Homo sapiens: one gene and its partner. The protein of the gene in region 1 purifies or fractionates together with the protein of each later gene. This does not show direct contact. Each region holds a gene or a part of one and is shown in the gene's direction. Other genes may lie near its edges.

Region 1 (3,655 bases):
CTAAAAATACTGATTTTTGTGTTTTTTCCCTGGAAGTTCTGTTTCAGTAGGTCTGAGATAGGCGCTTAGGAATCAATATTTTTAGCAAATGCTTCAGTTGACTCTTCAGGACATGCAGATGTGAGAAACCCTATACTCAATGTTATGCCTTCATGCATATATTATCAGCAGTGTAAAGAACTTAAATGGCTCCTGAAATTTCTCAAGAAAAAAAGAAGTAATCTTTACTTTAGGTTTTTGCTTCATCATGTATGCTGGGAAAACCTTCGGACTTCTTTGAGTGTTCCCCTTTTTTCTACATACTTGCATTACTTTGAAGCCATATGTTATGTCATTCTTTTCTATACTTGAACACTAGTTTGGTAGAATAATAAAATTGTAGAACTTTGAAGATGGAAGAGATTTTAGAGGTTTTTGTCCAAACCCTTAAGAGGACCAAGGAAATTAAATGATTTTCCTAAAGTCATACAGTTAGTGTCTGAAAGAGCCACGTCTCATAGAAGTTTACACTAGTGTCTCAAGGGTCTACTAATAAAGGCATGTGCCCAGAGAGTCTAAGTGTTTCTGGTTTTTTCCTCTCACAGCTTTTCACGTTTTTGCTTGGTGCATACTACCTTCTGCTGGTAGAGCTATTACTCTTGCTGGCAGTAGTACTATGTCACACTAATAGTGTATGATCACAGGCCTGAAGCCAAGCTATCTGACTGTACAATTTGATAGCTTTTAGACCTTGCACAGATTCCTTGACTTGTCTATAAGAAAAACAATAGGATGGTTGTGAACATTAAATGAGGTAATAATATGTAGAGTTCTTAGCACAGTGTCTGACATCCAGTAAATCCTCCATAAATGAGAGCTATTACTTTAAAAGAACTGAGACAAGGTAATTTTCTCCAAGTTATTTTTTTCATATGTATTACACTTGACTTCATTTCCAGTGCTGTCTATGTAGATTATTGGATCAAGGAGAGCCTAGAGATGGTATTTTATTTTCTCTTTTGGCCTCTATTGCTAGTATTTTTTTTTTTTTTTTTTTTTTTTTTGAGACGGAGTCTCGCTCTGTCGCCCAGGCTGGAGTGCAGTGGCGCATCTCCGCTTACTGCAAGCTGCGCCTCCCGGCTTCACGCCATTCTCCTGCGTCAGCCTCCCGCGTAGCTGGGACTACAGGCGCCTGCCACCATGCCCGGCTGATTTTTTGTATTTTTTTAGTAGAAACGGGTTTTCACTATGTTAGCCAGGATGGTCTCGATCTCCTGACCTCATGAGCCACCATGCCCGGCCATTTTTTTTTTTTTTGAGATGGAGTCTCACTCCGTTGCCCAAGCTGGAGTGCAGTGGTGCGATCACCACTTACTACAACCTCCGCCTCCCAGGTTCAAGCAATTCTCATGCCTCAGCCTCCCGAGTAGCTGGGATTACAAGCACCCGCCGCCAAACCCAGCTAATTTTTGTATTTTTAGTAGAGACAGGGTTTCACCATGTTGGCCAGGCTGGACTTGAACTCCTGACCTCAGGTGATTCGCCCACTTAGCTTCCCAAAGTGCTGGGATTACAGGCGTGAACCACTGCACCTGGCCTATTGCTAGTAATTTAAAAAGTATTATAATTGTTCAATTTTCAAGAGGACATAAAAGGAATTATAGTAAGAATAATTCATTTTATAATTTAAATATATATCTTTAATAATTCATTTGTATACATTATATATTTTCTAATTTTCTGATAGTTCTAGACCATTGAAAGCCTCTCAAATGGTGAATTCCTGCATCACCAGCCCTTCTACACCTTCAAAGTGAGTTATATTTCTTATGTACCCAAAATCTGTGTTTAAGGTTTTGGCTTACCCTAATCTCCAAGATTGCCTCCCTGCCTTTTCATTATTGTTTTTCTTTTTGCATGATAATGCTCTTTATTACCTATACTTTTGAAACTTTCCTGAATTTGGTTTAGAATATATTGAAGGATATAACAAATTTTAATCAGTGACACAAGGTTAGCTCATCCTCTCAATATTCTGTCTTAAAACTTTTAAAAACTTATTATTGTTAATATGTAATACTTTCATCCTAAAACTCTAAAAATTAACTGAGGACAAGGGAGTCTAGGGATTTAAGGGATAAAATAACCCCTATTAGTCTAAAGCACTCTTCCTTAAAGATAGGCATGGAATCCCAAAACATTTTTTACCTGTTGTTAGCCAGTCTGGAACTTCTTGTCTTTGACACCGAATAGGAGTTGTTTTGAAAGGGGACAGGAAAACAAGCAAGCATTCTACAAATGCCCTATTTTTTTGTTTAAGACCAAACTTTATCCAAGGAGGGAAGCACATGCCTTTTTTGTTTGCTTTTTAAATATATTTCCTCTAAGATTTTACTAGAGGAGTTCCTGATTAGATCATTTCAATTGATTTAGTTGTCGTTTGACTTTTTAATTAATTTTTCTAAAAATTTGATGGCCCAAAGTACTTTTAGAGAAGAGACATTTTTGTTGTTTAAGGGCTTTTGGGGGGCTTATATAACCATAAAATGACATTTGGGAACTGCTATTTTCTTTTCCTCCTGTTAATTATTTTTCAGTGCAATTAAAACCAGATGACTAACATGACTAGAAATCTGAAATGGTACCGATATGAATACTCTTGCCCGTTCTCAAGATACAAATGAGCAATACCACTTGGCTGCTTAGAAAGTGAGCAAGTGATGCATTTACAGGATGAATATTTTTCATTGCTACAGGCAAGCTGCCTTCTGTAAATATAGTAATCATTAATGGAATGCACTCTATGTACCAAGTCACTGTAGTTTCAAGAAAGAAATGATTTCATTGGGCATCATTGTACCTTGGCATGGTCATCTGTTCTCCAGGGTCTGCTGGTATGAAAATTTGGGAGTTGATCAATAAAGAATGATTAGGCCCTAGAAGACCTGTCATGCCGATCAAACTTAAAAGAGGCTGAGTTATGAACCAGAATACCATTGATTCTTCTACAATGTCCTTTGTCACAAATTTACCCTGGTGCAATGGTAGCCAGGTGTCATCCTCCTTCAGCAAAATATTTATCTGGGTAAACAAATTAATATGTTCAGGTTTGCTTGGTGAGCGTGAAATCTGAATTGAGGAATTAAGATGGCTAATTGGCTATTATACTAAAAACCCTTTTGAGCACATGGGAGGCTTTTCAAGTGTTCAGGTTGGAGTGCAGTGATATCCTGGCTGCTCTGAGCCACACACTATGTTTGGGCTTATCACTGACCACTTGCCTCTTTTCTTTGATCTACATTGCTATGTAATCTTCCTGATTTCCACTCTGGCCTCTTATTTCTTGGTGCCATTAGTCTATATGTTTATTTTCAGTTTTTACATTCAGGTTAATTGTATTTTCTAGTTTTCATTTTATATATATTTTTTGTATTGCATATGAATTTGTGTTAACCTCCATCAAAGAAAGTTCTTGTTCTTTGACCTTTACCACTTTTTTCTTTAGTTTATTTTCGGCTTACCTAGAAGACAACACAGTAACACCTTACTTATCTGGCATCATTAAAGGATTCCACATAAGTGAATTTTTATATAACTGAAGCTTACCTTTTAACGATTTATCTTTTAAAAGATTTTTAACAGTTTGGATGAAAATGTTTCTAAAATATGTTACACT
Region 2 (2,826 bases), on another chromosome or scaffold:
TTTTGGGATAGGGTCTAAGAACGTGTTTTTCAACGCTCCCCAGATGTGTGTATAACCAGGGGTGAGAACTACTGCTCCACAGATCTACTCAAACAAGAAAGCCCTTTTTATGGCAAATAGGTTTTCAGGAAACAATAGTGCATGTGAAATGATTTGTTTCTTCCCCTTTCCAGGCTCTGTGAAGGTGTTGGACCAGTAAACATATGTAAGAAACTTGTTTTTTCCTCTTCACACATTTCTCTCCTCTTCAAACTTCCTTTAAACTCAGGCTCACACTGGGGTCAGGAGGCGTCCGACATGGCCGGTCTGGCCACGACAGTCAGGGGAGCTGGGACCATCCAGCCCTGGATGGGGAGCATCTTCTTAGCTGAGGTCTGAGATCTCCCCAGAGCCTGCCTTCCCCAGAGCAAAACATTCATAAAGGTTTTCAAGGCCTCCAAAGTGGAGGACAGCCAGCTTTTTTGCTTTGAGCGGCCTTGTCCTTCAAGGGAACTTAGAAGGACTTAGAAGGACTGGGACTTAGAAGGAATGGGACGCCTCTGCCAGGGGAGCCTCTCATCCCCTGATGGCAGGGAACGCAATAAGGCCAAATGGAAGTCTCCCCACTGCTGCAGCCGAAGCATGGGTTGTACCCAAAGCACGCAGGGCAGTGTGCCGGGCATGGCAGTCTGGGGACACTGGCAAGGCAAGACCCAGCCCACGCTCTCTAGAAATAGAATCTTCTTGAGAAGATGAGTCCTAGCCACCATCAACCTAACACTGGAAGGATCCCTGGGGAGAAAAGCGGATACTGGCATCCCTGTTTTGCCCACTCAGAGAAAGTACATGATTTGCCAGAACTTACAAAGCGAACCAGATTTCAAACCCAGATTTCTGACTCCAAAAACACAAATGAACACTGACGTGTAGTGGAACCGAGTGCTAAACTGGGTGGGTCAGACAGTCAGAGCTACATGTACTTGGAAGACAGTGTCCCTTCCCACTCCCATGGAGGCGGTGAGTGGTCAGGGGAAGCCACAGGCAATGGCTTTCTGCAGGAGGTCAAGCTTGAGTGAACATCATGGATGGCAGGAAGGATTCTGGGTAAGATGAAAGGGCAGGAAAGAGTGTACCCCTCCATGGATGGGGCTGGTCTAGCAAGCTCTTCTGTGGATTTGAGTCCTGAGGCATGGAGTTGTGTCCAAGGGAGAGCAGAGGGCTACAGAGCACAGCCACCAGTGGGTCAGGAGAGAGGCGACAAGGGACTAGTGTTGGAGGGGTTTCCTGTGTGCTGGGCTAGGGGAAATATGGAGACCACCAAGGGGCATAATACAACTGGAAGAGAAAAGGCCCATGGCTTTGTGGAAGCTGCTGTTCCAGCTGTCTGGATAATCCAGCTCACTACCTACATCTCACAACCCAACTTGACTTTAGCCGTATATAAATGACAGTCAACCTATGGATGCATGCAAACATCTGGGGAATTGGATGAAGTCGTCATTTTCATCTGAATGTTTGATTTTAATGTAGTCACAGTCTTTGAGCCATCCAGAGAGGGAAAAAGTGTATACTGACTGTATAGACAATAGGGACCACTTCCCCAGATGCCACAACCCTGACCCCACTCCCTCCCCACCAGACCCGGAGGTGCAGCCCAGGGGTAGCATGGAGGTGGAGGGCCCTGGTGTCGGCAGCCTCCCTGATGCTTTCTTTCTCCGCAGCCGTCAGCAGCTCCCGGGGCGGCCTGGTGTGCGGGCCTGAGCCTTTGGTTGCCGGCTCCACCCTCTCCCGCGGCGGGGTCACCTTCTCAGGTAGCAGCAGCGTCTGTGCCACCAGTGGGGTCCTGGCTTCCTGTGGCCCCAGCCTGGGTGGAGCCCGGGTCGCCCCGGCCACTGGGGACCTGCTGAGCACTGGCACAAGGAGTGGCTCCATGCTCATCAGCGAGGCCTGTGTCCCCAGCGTCCCCTGCCCCCTGCCCACCCAGGGGGGCTTCAGCAGCTGCAGCGGCGGCCGCAGCTCCAGCGTCCGCTTTGTGTCCACCACCACCTCCTGCCGGACCAAGTACTGAGAGCCCAGCCCCAGACAGCTGCTGCCCAGAGAAGAACCAGCTCCACGGCTCCTGCTTCTGCCCCCAGGGTTCGTGGGCTCTGGGCTTGACGGTCTCCAGCTCCCCTTTCTGCCAGGAAGCCACCCCTTAGCACTCCCCCGATTATTCTGCCTGGCCCCATGTCCTCTTGGAGGATTTTTCTGCCATGTAGATGCTCCATTAGCAGTTCCAGCTAAGCTGGCTTCTCCCTGCCTCCCAATTTCTGTCCTTTGGATCACTCCTCTCCCTGTCAGCAACAGCCTGGAGAAATGCACATTCCGTGCAATAACAACAATCCACCCAGTGCCCTCACCACCCGTGGCTTTGGGTTAATTTGGAGAATGGAGTTGACCGTCCACACTGCAGGCATCCTTAACTCCACATCCTTCACTTCCTTCTTCTTCCTTTCTCTGGTAGGAGAAGGTTCTTTCCTTCTCTCCCTGATGAAGGGGATCCCAGTCCTTGGTGGCCCCAGGCTCCCTAAACCCCGAGATGGCTTTTCTCCCAGTGGCTTCTCTCCGGCTGTTTCTCTTCCTGGGTTGTTGGTGTAACTCCAGCATGCAAGTCCACGAGGTGGGGTGCAGGCGGACAGGCGGGCTTTGCAATGATCCCCGTACTCCTGCCCCTGCTCGTGGTGTGAGGCCCAGCCCTGTCCACTGCAGGGTTGTGTCTGCAAGCTCCAAGGAGGCCTGGGGGTTGGGTGGGGTGGGCTGCCTGTGTGCACTACTCTTTGTGTTCCTGGGTTTTCAATAAACTTGCCA

Evidence for each region.
Region 2: the proteins of USP37 (region 1) and KRT84 purify together in Homo sapiens (affinity purification with mass spectrometry; one large-scale study listed by BioGRID and IntAct). This does not show direct contact.

The regions. Positions count from the first base shown.
Region 1 is NC_000002.12:218,477,787-218,481,441, reverse strand, and holds part of USP37 (ubiquitin carboxyl-terminal hydrolase 37), read left to right. Parts: intron 1-1,726; coding exon 1,727-1,792; intron 1,793-3,655. UniProt on the Homo sapiens protein: Deubiquitinase that plays a role in different processes including cell cycle regulation, DNA replication or DNA damage response.
Region 2 is NC_000012.12:52,377,255-52,380,080, reverse strand, and holds the end of KRT84 (keratin, type II cuticular Hb4), read left to right. Parts: intron 1-173; coding exon 174-205; intron 206-1,700; coding exon 1,701-2,047; 3' UTR 2,048-2,269; downstream 2,270-2,826.